3 separate regions of the Homo sapiens genome follow, and regions 1 and 3 are each linked to region 2. Evidence: fine-mapped expression QTL. A gene starts in region 2. Each other region holds a variant in brackets. All regions are shown on one strand. Distances are between the middles of the regions.

Evidence for each region. PIP is the estimated chance that this variant, and not a neighbour inherited with it, causes the effect.
Region 1: its variant is fine-mapped to the expression of PTPRE in whole blood (TOPMed, PIP above 0.99).
Region 3: its variant is fine-mapped to the expression of PTPRE in whole blood (INTERVAL, PIP above 0.99).

What each region holds. Positions count from the first base shown.
Region 1 is chr10:128,068,673-128,073,892 of GRCh38, reverse strand. PTPRE (protein tyrosine phosphatase receptor type E) reads right to left here. Exons shown (of 21, transcript NM_006504.6): 13 at 4,066-4,201; 14 at 3,443-3,592; 15 at 2,992-3,085; 16 at 1,679-1,755; 17 at 422-556. Among named protein-coding and RNA genes, the nearest start is that of AS-PTPRE, 8.9 kb to the right of the region's middle. RefSeq lists a silencer at 4,357-4,554. The variant T/C (reference allele first, on the strand shown) is at 2,637.
Region 2 is chr10:127,904,779-127,909,998 of GRCh38, reverse strand. It overlaps PTPRE (protein tyrosine phosphatase receptor type E), which reads right to left and starts at 2,896. Exons shown (of 21, transcript NM_006504.6): 1 at 2,690-2,896. RefSeq lists a silencer at 2,933-3,052.
Region 3 is chr10:128,060,291-128,065,510 of GRCh38, reverse strand. PTPRE (protein tyrosine phosphatase receptor type E) reads right to left here. Exons shown (of 21, transcript NM_006504.6): 8 at 4,496-4,572; 9 at 3,796-3,832; 10 at 2,331-2,428. AS-PTPRE (lncRNA antisense to PTPRE protein-coding gene) reads left to right here and starts at 3,086. Exons shown (of 3, transcript NR_136150.1): 1 at 3,086-3,384; 2 at 4,667-4,824. RefSeq lists enhancers at 1,405-2,003, 2,343-2,552, 2,963-3,012, 2,344-3,543. The variant C/T (reference allele first, on the strand shown) is at 2,278.

The DNA of each region.
Region 1 (5,220 bases), 160 kb before region 2:
ATAAAAACACAAATACACAGCAGTAGTTATGTCTTGGGGGAGAACCCAGATAGATGTACATTGTTGGTAAACCTTGGGTTTACTGTTGTCTTCATGTCTTGAAAAAAGTCAATAAATGTCTTTTTCTTCAACAGGTTATGATCTTGGCCAATACCAAATGGCAGAATTTCAGGGCAGGTTAAATAACATGTAGGCTAAGGATAAAGGGCAGCGGGTAGCTATGGTTAAACCTCACTCCCAAAAAGGGAAAGGGTGAAATGAAACCTTTTTCATTTCCAATCTCTCTCCTTCCCTAGTGGTCCTGGCTTGGTCTCACCCATGTGTTTGCAGTGATGGCAGGTGGGACATTTGTAATGAACGGGGACAGTGCCTCAGGTGCACAGGCTGCCCTGGAGGGACCGGGCTGGGCGGCACTCCTCACCTGCTCTCTCTCCTGCACCTCCGTCAGCATCACGATAGTGTGGGATTTCCATTCCCAGATCATCCTCCAGAAGTCCTCAACCGTGTGTGCCAGTGGCCCCTGGGTGGCGATGAAATAGTCCTTCTGTCGGTAGCCCTTCAAATGGAGGCGCAGAGGTTAGAGTCTGACTTCCTTCCATCCTGGCTCCATTACCTGCTCCCTAAGTTTAGGACAGCCTAAGGCCTAATGAGGAAAACTCTCTCATCCTCCATGGTCTGCACCAGACCCCAGTTGGCACGAGCACTCAGGCACACACCTGACAAGCAGGTCAAGAAGCTCGCTTATCTGAAACCATAACGGCCACCGTCAGCCCCTGAGGTCATCAACAAATGGGTATTATGAACTGGTAGTTGCCTGTGGCCACCTGAACAGCACCTGGTGGCTTAGATTCTAACATGTTTCTGTGTGTTTCAGCTAGATCAGCATGGAGCCCACCGGATTCTGGTACAATTTTCTCATCTGCAAATGGCAATATGAACACACACTTGGCTGCCATTCCCCCTTTTGCCCTTCTTCTGCGAACTCCACTGTGCATGAAGACAGCCTCTGTGTGCCCTGAACACATAATTGTATTGTCCACGTGGGTACACATTGCAGAAATCACACAAGAGAAAGAGCACAGAGGCAGTGGATATATAATTGGTGTGTAACAGATATGTAAAAGAAAAATAACTATATATTAAAAGCAGAATGAAAAAAGAGCCAATTACTTAGCAGCGAGTCTATGTCCTTCTATTTCCAAAGTCCACTTTTTTTTTTTTTTTTTTTTTTTTTTGAGAGGGGGTCTCGCTCTCACTCTGTTGCCCAGGTTGGAGTACAGTGGTGTAATCTCAGCTCACTGCAACCTCAGCCTCCCGGATTCAAGCAATTCTCCTGCCTCAGCTTCCCAAGTAGCTGGGATTACAGGCACCTGCCATCACGCCCAGCTAATTTTTGTATTTTTAGTAGAGACGGGTTTTGCCATATTGGCCAGGCTAGTTTCAAACTCCTGACCCCAAGTGATCTGCCCGCCTTAGCTTCCCAAAGTGTTGGGATTACAGGTGTGAGCCATCGTGCCTTGCCACTTTTTTTTTTAAGCAAGTAATTCTGCTAACAAAAATGGCTGAGTTTCTGGAAACATGTCAATTCTTTCTCATTGTGAAAACAAGCTAATCAAGTCTGTGGTCACATGTGAAGGAAACACATCTGCATAAACACAACCCAGGCCAGCATACGTACGTCTATGAAGGATGCGTTGATGTAGTCTGTGTATTCTTGACCCCTTTTCATGGAAAGGATCACTCGGTTGAAGTCATCTGCAAAGCATTATCTTCCTTTAGTTATTACAAAAAGGGTCCCACCTTGCTAACTTTAATCCATTGCTACAAGCTTGCAAAATATAGATCCTATTAATAAAATCACTACGTAAAGCCAACTCTTTGGAAAGTTTACGTTATGAGAGACGATAATTAAAGTGGCTCAGGGGTATTTTTCTTTTTGAAGGAAAACTCTGAAAACCACCCAATTATCATTTTCATTTTTCAGGAATCGATATAATACATACCAAAATACAAGCACTAAAAATATTGCGCTGAAGGAGTAAATGGAATGTGGCCAGGCAAGCAATCTAGAGTGGCCAGCAGGACACCGGGGCCCCAGAAAACCAAGGGCCAGAGTCTGAAGATGGCAGCACCCCGGGGAGCTCTACTCGCCTGCAGTGCTCGGGGAGACCCTGCTGCAGCAGGCCTGCTCCCAGCTGTTTCCAGATGGTGTTTGTTGAGCTGTGACTCTGTCGAGGACAAGTCTATAACGAGGCACACCCTCCTCCCAAGCGGGGCATCTCCCACCTCCCTCCCTAGTTCCTCGGATCCCTGTGGAGTCTGCTTTGGGGCCGGGTTTCTCAAGTTTCTCTTTTTCCCACTTGGTGAGCCTCCCGATTCCCACTCCCCTGCCCACTGCATGTGGCCCTGTCTTCTTGCCAGCTTTGCCTCCACTCCTCCCACACCTGCCAGGTCCTCCTTCCCTCTCCCATGACCTGGGTGGCAGACCAGTGTCCTGACTCTACCCTAGGCCCATTTCTTGTCCTCCTCAAGGCCACAGCCTTTTCCTAGGTGGTCTCAGCTGAGTTCACCTGCATGGCCTCGGCTGGGTGGCTCAGGCCCCTCTGTGTAAGGGGGAGGCGGGCCTCTGCCCAGGC[T/C]TGGGGAGACAAGGAATGAGACAAGGAATCCCAAGTCGTGCCTGCCGCAAATCTCCAGCTTCTGTGAAGCCCTCCCCTGAAATCAGCCTCGGCTGCCCTCCCGCATCTGCAAGCTCATATCCGAAGCAGCTTGCCTGAGACCCATGCAGGACTGTCTGGGTCAGCTGGTGCTTCACAGGTGTCTTTTCTACCTGACATTTGGTACAGCACACAGGAGCCCTTAGCCTGAGGCCAGAGGACACCCTGCTTTTGACCCTGGTGCACAGGGGTAAGCGGTCAATGGCTTCTCCAGGATGAAAGCCTCCGGCACCAGCCCCGCCCCAGCCCTGCCCAAGCCACGCCACGGGTGCCTTACACGGGATGATCTGGATGACCCTGGCCTTCTTCATGTTTGCCGGCAAGTTGCCCGTCCTCATGTTCTCCTTCATGATCCGGACATTTGTCAATTTCTGCAGCAGAGAAGGATATAATGACACAGTTAAACCTCTGACACTCCTGAGCACATTGCTCAGCCGAGGACTAGTGCTGCTGGCAAGGACGCCTGCTCAAAGGAAACCACTCTCCAACCCAGGAAGCCTCCTTAGCATTGGGAAATACAAATGTGTGCCTAGTAGGGCTGCTATGAGGCTCTGAAAGCCACCTGATCCTTCTTCCCTTGTAAATCATGGCTCAGGTATTGCCCCTGCTTTTTCTGAGGTCAGTTAAGGGGCAAGTGATTGAAAGAGGCTTCCTTTAAATGGTCACCTGTTTTCCTCGTGCCCTTGGCTGCTTACACCAGGATGGAGAGGAGGGTCAGCTGTACTCACCCTGAACTCCTCCTCCAGCCCGATCTTGTCGAAGTGGGTGGTGGTGCCGTGCATGGTCTGCAGGTGCTTCTCCAGGGAGGACACGTCCAGCTCTGTGTCCCCGTAGAGGTAGTACTCGAGTAAGGCTTGGTAGATGAACGTGTACTGCATCTGCAGAGAGGCCAGGGGTGCCCACACCCTCAACTCTGCCCTGCAGTCTTGGCCCACGTGGAGCTTGGCAGACCAAAGAGGGCGGCTTTCTTCTTTTTCTCTTTTTGCCAACACAAGGAGGTGTGAGGCAAGAGTCAGAGTACCGGCCACGGATAACGACCATTTATGCCCTTGAGTAAGGAGAACGGTAGCAGCAGAGCCTCACATTGGTGAGCACGCCACGCACTGTGTACATGCACCGTTTGGGGGAGTAGGATTGCCCCATCTCACATGAGGATACGAGGGAAAGATGAGGACGAGGGAGTCCCTGAGGTCCCACGCGTGGGCAGGGAAGGCTATGGGGAGCGAAGCCAGGCCAGGCCCAGGCTGGTTGCCACGTGCCCATCAGAGCCAGGGCCCTGCACACCTGTGTGGCGAAGGCATCGGGTTTGCTTTGGGAAGCTAGATCAGGGCAAGAGGAAGGCATGACTCACATCCGTTTGAACCATCTGAGGGCGCTGATTACGGATTCGAGACACAAATTCAAACACATCCACCTTCTGCTCCGCGTGCATCATGGCCATCATGGCATCGATCACAATGAAGGTGCCCGTCCGGCCCACGCCCGCGCTTTGGGGAAAGAGAAAGATGCTGCGTCGTGAGTCACACTCCTCCCGAAGTAAATGAAAGGCCCCGAAGGGGCCTGCGCACCCAGGTCACTGGATGCAACTTTTTGTTTTTTTGGTTAATTAGGAGCAAAGCTACAGTGCAGCCACCAGAGGGAGCTGTGGTCTCAGTAAAGTGATCTCAGGCCGGTCCTCTGATAGCCACCGACACTCTACTAAGAGGCACATTAACAGCTGGTGCAGTAAGCCTCGGATTAGGCTGTGTGGAGAATTTTTCTCACTTACCAAACAGTGTCTTCTTCTTATATGTGTGATTGGCATCCTAGATCTGTCCCCCTGGGAGCAGAGGGACCTCAGATCAACTATGCAACAGCTCTGGTATCCAGCCTCCCTCTCTGTCAAACTGGGCAAACCAAGTCATCTGACTCGGGGCATTAAGTGAGGTGGCATCTGTCAGATTACTGTTATCTGACCCTGCAAATTCTTCCCAGTATGAGCTACACTGGAGGGTGGGTGGGGTGGGGTCCAGCCTCTGCTTGGCCCCAGCAAGCGAGTGTTGCTCAGACTTGGGGAAAGCCCGTTCTTCGGGGGTTCCTGGACGGCTTCTCGTGAACACCTGCATGACAGGTGCAGAGCGCCTGCATCACTGCGTGCAGGTGGCTTTTGTCCCTGGCAGTGCTGTGATACTCAGAATGAACCTGTCTGTAACAGATGGAAACTTAGTATCTAATCAAAGTGATACCCTGGTGAGGCCAATCACTGCCAGGAACAAGTGGGGCTCTCTGTGGACAGGGGGTTGTGGGGTGGCCTTGGCTGTACATTTGAGTAATTCTTCATGTTGTGCAAAGCCCACCCAGATGCCAGTCACAGGCTCCGCCGAGGCTGTCCTTCCCATCACAGGTGAGGAAACCGAGGCTGAAGTGGCAGCTGGCGAGGGGCAGCCTGGTCCTCGGACCCTGGTCTCCAGGACAGCGTGTTCTGGAAGACTCTGCTGTGGGGGCCCATCTGAGCATGGTGTGCTCT
Region 2 (5,220 bases):
TCCCAAGCCTGCCTCCCTGGGAGGTCACTTGGGGTGTCTCTGGTCCAAGCCAGCAGTCATTTTAGCAGGTGAGTCCAGCATCTCCAGAAGGGCTGGCCACATGAGCCCTGGATGGACCATGCCCATCCACATCGGCAAAAATGTGTGGCTGCCTATCAACCATACAACATCCACGCAACAGACACACACTTGCTCCATCAGCACATGCGCTTCGGGAAGGTCTCACTTCCAAGTTGTTTATCCATGGACAGTAGTCCTCAAGGCTCCACTGGTAGGCACATGGCTGGGCACTGGAGATACAGTATTGCCCTCTCTTCACAGAAACTATAGTCTGGCATACATTTCAGAAGCAACATGGAGGCTGGTGGAATTGGATGGATAAAGACAACACTGGGAAAGTACTGGAAGGGGAGGGGAGATCACAAGTTTGATTTTGACGCATTGAGTCAAGGGGCATTTGATATCCCAGGGAGAAATGTCAAGTGGGCAGCTGCGGAGGAGAACTACAGAGGAGTGGCCGGGCCTAGAAACACACCTCTGGCCTTCAGGGAGGGAATATTGATCAGCGGTGCACCTTAGACTAGGCTAATGGTGGTGCAGATGGAGCACAGTGGACCCACTGAGGCACAGCTGGGAGAAGCATACTTTCACCAGTTGAAACTGATGCATCTACCATCACCCCCACTGTGAATGCATCTTCTCTTGGGGTTTGGGGGCAAGATTTGCACACACAGCCACCTCTCTTCTCAGGGGCAAGGATGTACACACACAGCCGCATCTACTCTCAGGGGCAATGGTTTGCACACACGCATCCCTGGAGAAGAGGGGGCTCCCATCAGGGCACAGTGCTTCAGGACCTCCTCCAGGCTTCCGTGGAGGTGGCGGTGCTGACACAGGGAGCGCATCTCTCTCTGCCAGCTGTCCCCCACAGAAATGAGAGGTGGCCTCTGTGTGACTTTCCGCATTGTCCTCACTTTGTGTCCACACAGGGCCTCCAAGAAGCATCACACGTAAAGACAATAACACCCTCATCGACTTCCCTCAACTGGTTTGACTGGAACTGATGAGGGAGTGTGTGACTAAGTCCCAAGCCATCTGGACACATCCAGTGACCTGACCTTTTACAGAGACAAATCTAGCTCCTAGCTCTTGTCCACATGGGAACGGTCTGTTGGGGCAGGGAGGGGGCGGTGGTGACTCACAGGCATCACCAACATCAATGAACAAAAATCTTGGCCCCCAAGGTCAGATTCAGGGGCAGAGCCTTGTCTGGGAAGGGCTGGGTGGTACGTCAGGCCTCTCTCACTGACAGCGCAGCCCCCACCTCTTGGGCCTGCTCCACCTCGCCTCTGACCTTTTGCTCCCCAAATGCCAAGAGCCTGTGCTTGGAAAGTACAGACCCTAACCCTGTTCACACCACAGAGCTCTGCCCATACCATGCTGGCTGAGTGACCGTGGTGGTCAGACGCTTGCCCCAGCCACTGGCCCCCACCATTTCATGCCCTCCTCTGGCCATTATCCCAGTTTTGGAAACGACCCTCCACACCCCCCCTCCCCACCCACATACACACAGTTTAAATGGACAAGAGTCGTTAGTGTGCAGAGGCAGAACTTCATCCATCTTTGGGACACAAAGACCTCCAGACGCCCTGGGTCAAGGGGTACCTGGGGCCAAATGCAGAGCTGACTGGACATGGACACAGTAATTTCTGTATCACGTGATCACTCTTTGCTGGTGTTCATTCAACTCACCTATACGCTCATTCACTCTAAAATACAAGCAGAGAGCTGTATTCTTTCTTTGAGTTTCCTGGATTGAAACTCTGATGGAATGGTCACGACTCAAGACAAACCAATATCATAATTCTGCAAGTATAATTGCCTAATCTTTCTGGAAAGGTTTGCATGCCTGGAAGGAATTTAGGTCAGGTCCAGCGCGGTCTCCATCCGGCTTGGCTCTGCCTCCCCATCCTGTGGGTTGCCCGGCCTTCCCCAGATGGTCCCGGGAGCTCTCAGAATTGGCACCGCGCTCGCATCTGTGCTCAGGAGCCCTGTGAGGTCGTCGACCCTGCAAATCGCGGCAGTCCAGCCTGGACCACCTGCCAGGGTCTCCCTGCCGCATCTCCGACCCCCGGCGGCTGCTGCATCCCGCTCCACCTGCCTCCCTGGGAAGGCGCGGGCGCCCGCCCGGCTGCGGGGCAGCATCCTGGCAGAGCGCCGGCCCCTCCCAGAGTTGGCACAACTCGAGCCACTTTCTTCAAAGGCTCCAGCCTCCAGCCTCGAGTGGGCGCAGCCCCCCACGCGCGGCCTGCACCCCCTCTCTGTGTCGCCCGCTTTCACGTACGCCGCCCTGCCGCCGGCCCCCGCGCACTGTAGCCACCCGCAGACACGCGCGCCCTCCTCCTGTTTACCGAGAGGGAGCGTGAGCACTGCCACTGTGGTCGCCAAGTTGGGCTGGGGACTCCGGGTGAGGGGACGCGCCACAGGCCGGGGTCGGGGGTCGTACGGGCCCCAGCCGCTGGTACTGGGCGCGCCGCGGGGGCGGCGGGGCCGGGGTCCGGACTCTGAGCCCCGGAGCGGCCCCTCCCTCCCGCGGCAGCGGCCGAGGCAGCGCCCCGGCCTGCTTGGGCCTCCCGGGGTGCACAGTTCCCCACAGGGGCGCAGGGTCCCTGTCCGCACGCGCGCTCACCTCGGGGGGGCCGGTCTGGTCGCGCAGATCGCGCTGCAGCGGAGGCTCCGCATCTCCCGGGCGCCTGCCCGCCGCCCTCCGGGGCGCCCGGCTGTCTTCGCCGGGCGCGAAGAAGGGTCGCGGGGACGCGCAGAGGCCGTGGGTTCCTGAAGCCGCTCGCGCCGGCTCCTGCCGCCCGCTGTCCGCAGCCTAGCAGGAAATTTGTCCGGCCGGCCGCGTCCCGCCGCCGCCTCGGCTCCAGCTCCGGCTGTGGCTCCGCGGCGGGGGCGGGGGCCTGGGCGCTGCGAGGAGCGGGGGCGACGCCTGGTGCCCGGCGCGGGGAGCGCATCCAGGGCGCCCGCCCCACCTGCGAGGCGGGTATGGCCCTGAGGCCCTGCGGCCCTGCCCTGGGAGCACCCAGACACTGTGGGCATCCGTTTACTCAAGGCTGGTGCCCCTTCCGGGGAGGCCTGGTCCAGCCACTCCGCCGGGACCCAGGTGCGTAGACAGAGGGTCAGGGTATGGCAGGCACTCACACCTGGTGGAGAGCAAAGGCAAGGCCCTGCCTCTCCCTGCCCTATCCCTGTGCACCAGGAAGTGGCCTGACTAGGGACTCGCCCTGGTCTTGCAGCAGGTGTGGGACACGCAGGGCACCCCGTGCGCTTCTGGTGCGAGGAAGCTGGGAGAGCTGTGAGGTCGCTGGGCCTGGTGGCCTCCTCTGGAAAGAGGAGGGGATAAGGCGCCTGTCTGGGGGATGTAGAAGAGGGCTCGCTTGTCCCGAAGGCAGTATCTGTCAAAGTTAAAAACGCACAAAGAGAAAGAAGAGCGACAGAGCCAGGCACTGGGCCTGCTGTCTAGCCGACTTCTTCCAGGGAATTTCACTCAAGCTATTTAGGGAGCTTTCAGAGAAAAGGCAGTTCCCTGGAAGGAGCAGAAAAGACACTGGTGGCATGTTGGTTCTGAACCTTTGTGCCGTGCCCTCTGGATGGGGCCACGGCCCAGCCCTCATGAGGGAAGCTGCATTCTGTGGTAGGGACCCAGCTCATTAGGCTTATGAATGAATGAATGGATGGGGAGAAAGTGGCACTTACGGTGTGTTACCCCACGTTGCACCGATTGCCAGCCGACGACTCTTAGCATACTTAAGGCCTGTTTAGACAGAGCTACGGACCCCAAAGGCTGCAGAGCAATGGGTGCCTCCTGGCAGAGGCCACCCCCACGTGATTTGCCCAGAGTGGGACTTCCCCTCCACAGGGGCCGGAGAGCTGCGAAACCAGTGGAGAACTTGAGCTCCACCTCCCTGCCCTGCCCTGCCCATTTCTGTCCCTGGGGGCCTTGTCTAGCCCCAAAGCTTTAAACACCATCCGTATGGGAATGACTCTAAGCAGCACCACTCTGGGGCCCTCTCCTCCAAGCTCAGCTCCTCCTGGCTGTCTCCTGCTGTCTCAGACCTGCCTCTTGCTCTTACTTAGTTTCTCTGCAGTCGTCCCTGTCCCTGCCTCCGTGTCCCACCTCAAGTCCACCTCCCAGAGGGCCCAAGTCCACTTCCCACTGGCTTCTCCATGCATCTTGCCCTTTCATCTCACTGCCTGCGCCCCTCCAAAACCTGCAGTGGCTCCCCAGCTTCTGACCCACTCTCCCAGATGATCCATTCTTCACACTTGGTCCCAGGCACCTCACAAAGTGTAAACCGGGTCCTGCTAGCCCCCTGCTTAAAAGCCTCCAGGAATATTAAAACCCAAACTCCCACGAGGCTCTGCCTGACTTCCCTGGCTGCTCTGAGCCTCTCACCCCTGCCCGCTGGGCTCCAATCACGGCTCCTTTCTCTCAGTGCCAGAGCCAAGCTCCTTCCTGCCTGGGACTCCTCCAACCAGTGCACCTGGTTCCTTCTTACTGGTGGCTTCTGGAAGATCGCCCTGCATCCATCTCTTCTGCCACTCTCTTCCACATCCTCCATCACAGTTTGGAATTATTTGTGGGTTTATTGGCTCCTTTTGTGTCTGTCGTGCCCTCTTCCCCTACCCCCAGGGCTGTAAGCTCCAGCAGCCTAGGCTCTGTTGATCTCCATGGCTTCTCAGACTCAAGCTCCTAAAGCAACGTCAGTAGCCAGGAGGTGCTCAGTGAAGGCGTCTGGGCTGTCAGAGCAGAGGAGGATGGGCCCCAGCCAGCAGCAGCAGACAGCCTGGTCACCTCGGAGCCCAGCAGGGCGGGTGGCTCCCTCCTGAGTGCACCTCCAAGGAACAGCCCAGGTTGAGGTGGGGCCAGGTAGCACATGACGTCACCAGGCTTTGGATTTTTCTGCTGTTGTGGTCTACAGAGTCAGGCTTATGTACATGAAGGCCATAATTACAAAGCTCTGCTAAGCACAGTTTTGCTTGTTAACGCTGCAGGGCTGAGGAGGCAGAGACTGTGAGCTAAGAAGACAGAAACAACTTGCCTTTGTCAGACATCTGCTATTGGAAAGTGAACAGCCTTGGTAACATGATGGGGAGGCAGATGGCTCTTCTTTCCTCATAATATCTTCTCTGCTGGACCCCAAAAATTCTCAACCC
Region 3 (5,220 bases), 160 kb before region 2:
TTGCTACAGACAGGCCCATTTCTTTACCTTCCCGACCTCTGAAGCAAGAATGACCCAAAATACACGTTCCAGGAGCCCTTTCATTTTGCAGCACCGCCCGCAGCACCTGCCCGGTGGTGTCCTCCATCACTTCGCGAGTGAATGAGGACCCACCTCAAGGGGGAAAAGATCTACTTCATCTGCCAGAGAAACATGTCTGGAATGGAACAAGCCTGCCAGTAGTCAGAGAGTATATCCAGGGAATGGCCCCTGAGCAGCACAGCTCGTGGTCAAGCCTCCAGGATTAACAGTCTTATGAAACAAACAGCATCTGGTATTTAGTAGAGAGCAGCATCATTGTGTTATGACGGCTACCGACAACTTCCCCCTCCTTACACCTGGCTCCGGGCGGGGCTGCGGGGCTGTGGGTCACAGGCCATCTCTGATGCAGCCCAGGGGAATTGCAAATGCCTACATGTCCCGGTTTGGGTGAGTCTTGGCCCTATGGGGAGCCCTGGGGTCCCTCCTGAGCTTCTCACCTTGAAGGCTCTCCAGTAGGAACTGAGAACATGTGTCAGCCTCTCAAGGGCTCAGTGTTGGTGGCTGGTTTTATACCCCCTCCCTCTGCCTCCCTCCCACCCGATCATGAGATGCCAGGGCAGCTGTGTTTTGCAATGCAGAGCCCAGGATGTGGAAGCCAAGGAAACCACAACAGAAGTGTGAGCAATTAAGAAAAAGGGAACTCTATTGAGAAATGATTTCATCTGAATTGGTGAGAATGAGGACGCGGCAGCAGCCCAGCACTGAGTCACAGGAGTGGAAAAATCCAGTAGGAGGTTGTGGGGGAAGATGGAGAGAAAATGCCAGTGACACTTTCAGCAGAATGACTGAAAGAGGGAAGTGAGGGCGTCCTTGAGCCCCACTGCTTCTGTGCTGGTCTCATGCTTGGAGCACCAACCCCAGGAAGACTGGTCCCTATGGGCCATGGGTCACGGGGGACCCTGAGGCTCCTGATGAAGGGTCAGCCTCCTTTTCCCTCGCGTGGGTGTCCTCCTCCATGGCCGCTACAGCGCAGGCAGAGTGAAGAGTCCTGGGCTGGGAATCCCCTACTTCCCTCTGTCACTCTTCCCTCTTCCCCATGACAAAGCATGACAAGGGCAAGATTTGCAAGGGCAAAGGGGTGGCCCTCCACAGTCCTGTTTCAGCTCCCCCCAGAGCAGAATGAAAGCCTCCATCCTATTCCTGACCAGAAACGGTGGCTGGAGGCTGCTTCCTGTGTTTTGGGTGGCAATTAGTAAGCTGGCACTGCGGGGACCAGAGCACCTCCCAGCCTGCCCTTCCTGTGGGCTCCTGCCACCCATCTTCTGCCCCAGCTGAGCTCCCCAAGGCCTGGTACTCCCATCTAAAAATGGCAGCCCTTCCCCACAGTCCTCGCTACAATGCCTGGGAACTGCTGGGGCCAGGCCAGCAGATGACTGAGGAGCTCAGGACACAGCAGGCCCTGAGCAGGGCCGGGCAGGACACACGGCTCCCACTGAACCGGGCCTTCATGCCAGAACACGCCAGAAGCACAGCCTCCTAACTTCGCCCCACCTGTGGTAAGTGTCCCTCAGGCTCCCAGTTCTTCTTTCATTCTGGAGAGTGAGCTCACTGCCTATGGCATGGCTCCCTGCCTGTCACTCAACCCCACCCCCGCACCCAGGCTCCCCACAGCCACCACTTCTCAGCCCTGAATTTGAGCCCCTACTCCTTGCACCTGGGACAGAGCTGGCCCAGCACAGCAGATGCTAATGAGTACTTGTTACATTAGGAAACGAATCAGTTCAACTTTTCTTCTTTGTCAATGATTCAAATTCTTATAACGTACATGCATCCTTTTTTGAATTAGAAACAGCTAATTAAATATATTCGGATGACAAATCAACATTTCTTCAATATACCAACGTTTTCCAAAAGCATTTCTCTAGTCTGGATAATAAGCGCGAAATCATGTTCATTTCTAGCCTGAGCTCTGCCGCATGACACGCTCAACATCCTAAAACTCTAAGATTCATGTCTCTCATCAGGCAGGCAGAGCCATGGGGCCAGCCGGGGGCCACTCTTACTTGGGAAAAAAAGGAAACTCTTGTGTCATTGTGTTATCACAGATTAGATAACAGTGAGATGCTGGGGACACAGGGGATTTGTTTCGTGAAGAAAATGCTGTAAGCCACTGCATGTGTTTGGGTTTTTTTCTGCAGTGATAGTGGGAGGAAGGGAGGGAAGTAGGAAAAGGAAGTGGTAAGAACATCCCCAGCC[C/T]GGCAGCAGCAGCTGAAAGGAAGTGATACCGGGGCCAGATGCCTGGAACTCACCTCTTTCCTTTCTTTCAAGTTTGTTAACATGACGATGGTCGCAGACTTTTGCTCCCAGACCATTCTCCAGAAGTCGTTAACCGTTTCCTGTTTGGGACCTGTGTGTAGAGGACAATTTCGAAGTCAAAAGGCATGAAGGGAAGTCCCTTTGGGGTCCCAGCCCCGGCACCCTGGCCGTTGGCCCCTGGACAGCTGTTCACTCCCTTCTCAGGCTTGTTGGGGACACACACGTCATGCCCTGAAGCGTTCCGGAACCGGTAGGGGCTGCCTGTCCTGCCACTCACCCACTCCAGCTAGGAACTCCTCAGTGGGCAAGATAATTGGGCCCAGGTTGAGTTATGACGTTCACAGGTAAGAAGCAGGGTTCAGATGAGGGCTGGGTCTACAGCCAAGTGTGGGAGAGCTGGTGAAAGCCTTGCGAGAGGCAGAGACTGGCCAGCCTCACCCTGCATTCCCAATCCCCTCCTCTTTGTCAAAATCTTACTCTCAGCATGGTGCTGTCCAATACGATATGAGCTAAAGTCCCTCGGGAGGGGGATGTGAACAACAGACAAAGTGTCACTAGGAGAAAGTCCTCTGCCCCTATCCACTTCCTGTCTGAGCTGCGGCTATTTTGCAGTCCCGAGCTAAGTGCTACGTGCTGAGGGGGATGGGCGGGGAGATAAGGAAGCCCCTGGCCCTGCTGCTGTCCTGCCGTGGGCTAGCTCCCTGTGGGTGTCTGCTGGCAAGAGAGAAACACATGCTTTCATCTGCTTCAGCCAGGATCGTCAGGTTTCCTGAGGTTTCCAGCTGGGCACATTCCTGATGGCCTCTGCGTGTGCACATGTGTGTCCTTTTTTCTTAGAGATTCTGCATTTGTAACAACTTCCCAGGTGATTTTGATGGACGCTGACTTTCAGAGCTCATTGCCCTAAAGACTCCTGGCCTAAGAGTGAGGAAGTCTGAGGAATCTGGTTTCAGCTCCACTGATATCTAACCGCACGTACACCAGGTCCTGCAGATGACAACCTCTGGTGGAACGGAGTGATGCTGGATTCAGTACTCAACACACAAGGTAGCCCTGTGCAAGGTGAAGGGCACGTTTTCACAGCTGAAGTATATTCTTAGTTATGGCCTTGATCTGAAAAGCTATTCACCCCACTAACCCCTCGCCCAAACTTGGGGAGCCATGTAGGGCTCAGCCAGCTGAGAGAAATTCAAGGTTATCTGACGCAAGTATTAACAAGCTGGAATGGCAGCCGGGGCCATTGCGTGCCCTGTGTTCACACCATATAGGTGTGGGAATAAGTGTGTGTTTCTCTGACTACACATATCCGTTGTGTGAATGGATATCTAACGTGTCTGTTAGGTGTAAACACACACACACAAATCCAGTATAAGTCCTTGGTCTTGTTGGCATACAGAGAAGGAAATAAGAGCTATTCACGTTACCAAAAATACGTTGAGAAATTAATAAAAAGCTTACCTTGAGCTGCTATGAATTTATTCTTCTCTTTGTAACCCTAGAAAAAATAACATCAGATTTATATTTTTTCAGAATTATCTTTGCTGAAAGGATTTGTTGGTGTTGCTGTTAGGAAAGCAGTACATATTCACCATGGAAAATTTGCAAAACACAGGAAAAGGTTAAGAAGGAAAGAAAACTCACCAGCAATTCCAGAAATAACAAATCCTACTTCATACGTCCCCTCTCTAGTCTGTTTTTCTGCCAAACCTTTCCCAGACTCACCCACAAGCAGACATGCAGACATTTCTGTCCTCTAATTGGGTGAACATGTACAATTTATTTTATGTTGTATTTTTAATGGGAATTTTATAATTGATATTAAATGATCTTTTAAAGATTAATACAAATCAAGTTCTAATAGTCCACTGCACATGGTTTTACCACAATCTGTTTAACTACCCATGCTCCCTGTTCTATTTGGTCAGGAATATACATAATGCTGTAGTGAACATCCTCTGTGATCATCTCTGTCTCTTGAATTCAAATTCCCAGATGCTGATGCCAGTGTGTAAAGCACGGGCAGTTCCGTACCCTTTGTGCTTGTGGCCAAACTGCCCAGAAAGGTTGTGACAATTTACACTCCGGGCACCAGACAAGAAAGTGCTTACTGCTCATGCCCCAGCTGGGCCAGGGGAACAAGAAACCTCTGCCCACTTACATCTATGTAGGAAGCATTGATGTAGTCTGAACAGGGAATTCCATCCAGTTGGCTCAGAATCACCCTAGAATGGTCATCTGGAAAAAAAACCCAAACAAAGCCAAGATATTAGGACCAGGAATCACAGTGCTGTCTCTTCCAGAAATCACAGTGCTGTCTCTTCATCTGCAGTGTCAGCTCCTGGGAAGGGCAAAAGCAGCTTCACAGCGACACCAGGGATGGCAGAGATGTTCTTCCTCAGCGTTCCCATGGAGAACACTAGTGTCCTGAGAGAGAATGCACCTGCTTTGGTGAACACTGACTGTCTCAGCTGTGGCATGACGACAAGGGTAGGATTTCAGCATCCAGGATGGGGGCTGCTGGGTCATTACATAGCAAGAATAGCAGAATGTGCCAGGCCCCTGGCAGTGCAAGGGCTGTATTTTATGAACCCTGCACTGGGCCCAGCCCCAGTGTTGCCAAGTGTGGGTGCACTTAAAAGAGCCCCAGGACAGGAGAACTGGGTCCACTCTCCCAGGCTTCCCAGGGAAATGAGCACCAGCCCCATGAGGACAAGTGGATGTGGGGGTCTAGGATTGGGGACTCTGACCCTCAGTCCCACCACCGGAGTCTGCCCCAGAGCTGGAAGGCGAGCACAGTGAGGAGCGTCTGGTAGATCCAGCCTGTTGCACAAGCAGTTTTCCGGGGTAGAAGGCTGACCGTGGAGTGCTCTGTGTGTGGGGTGT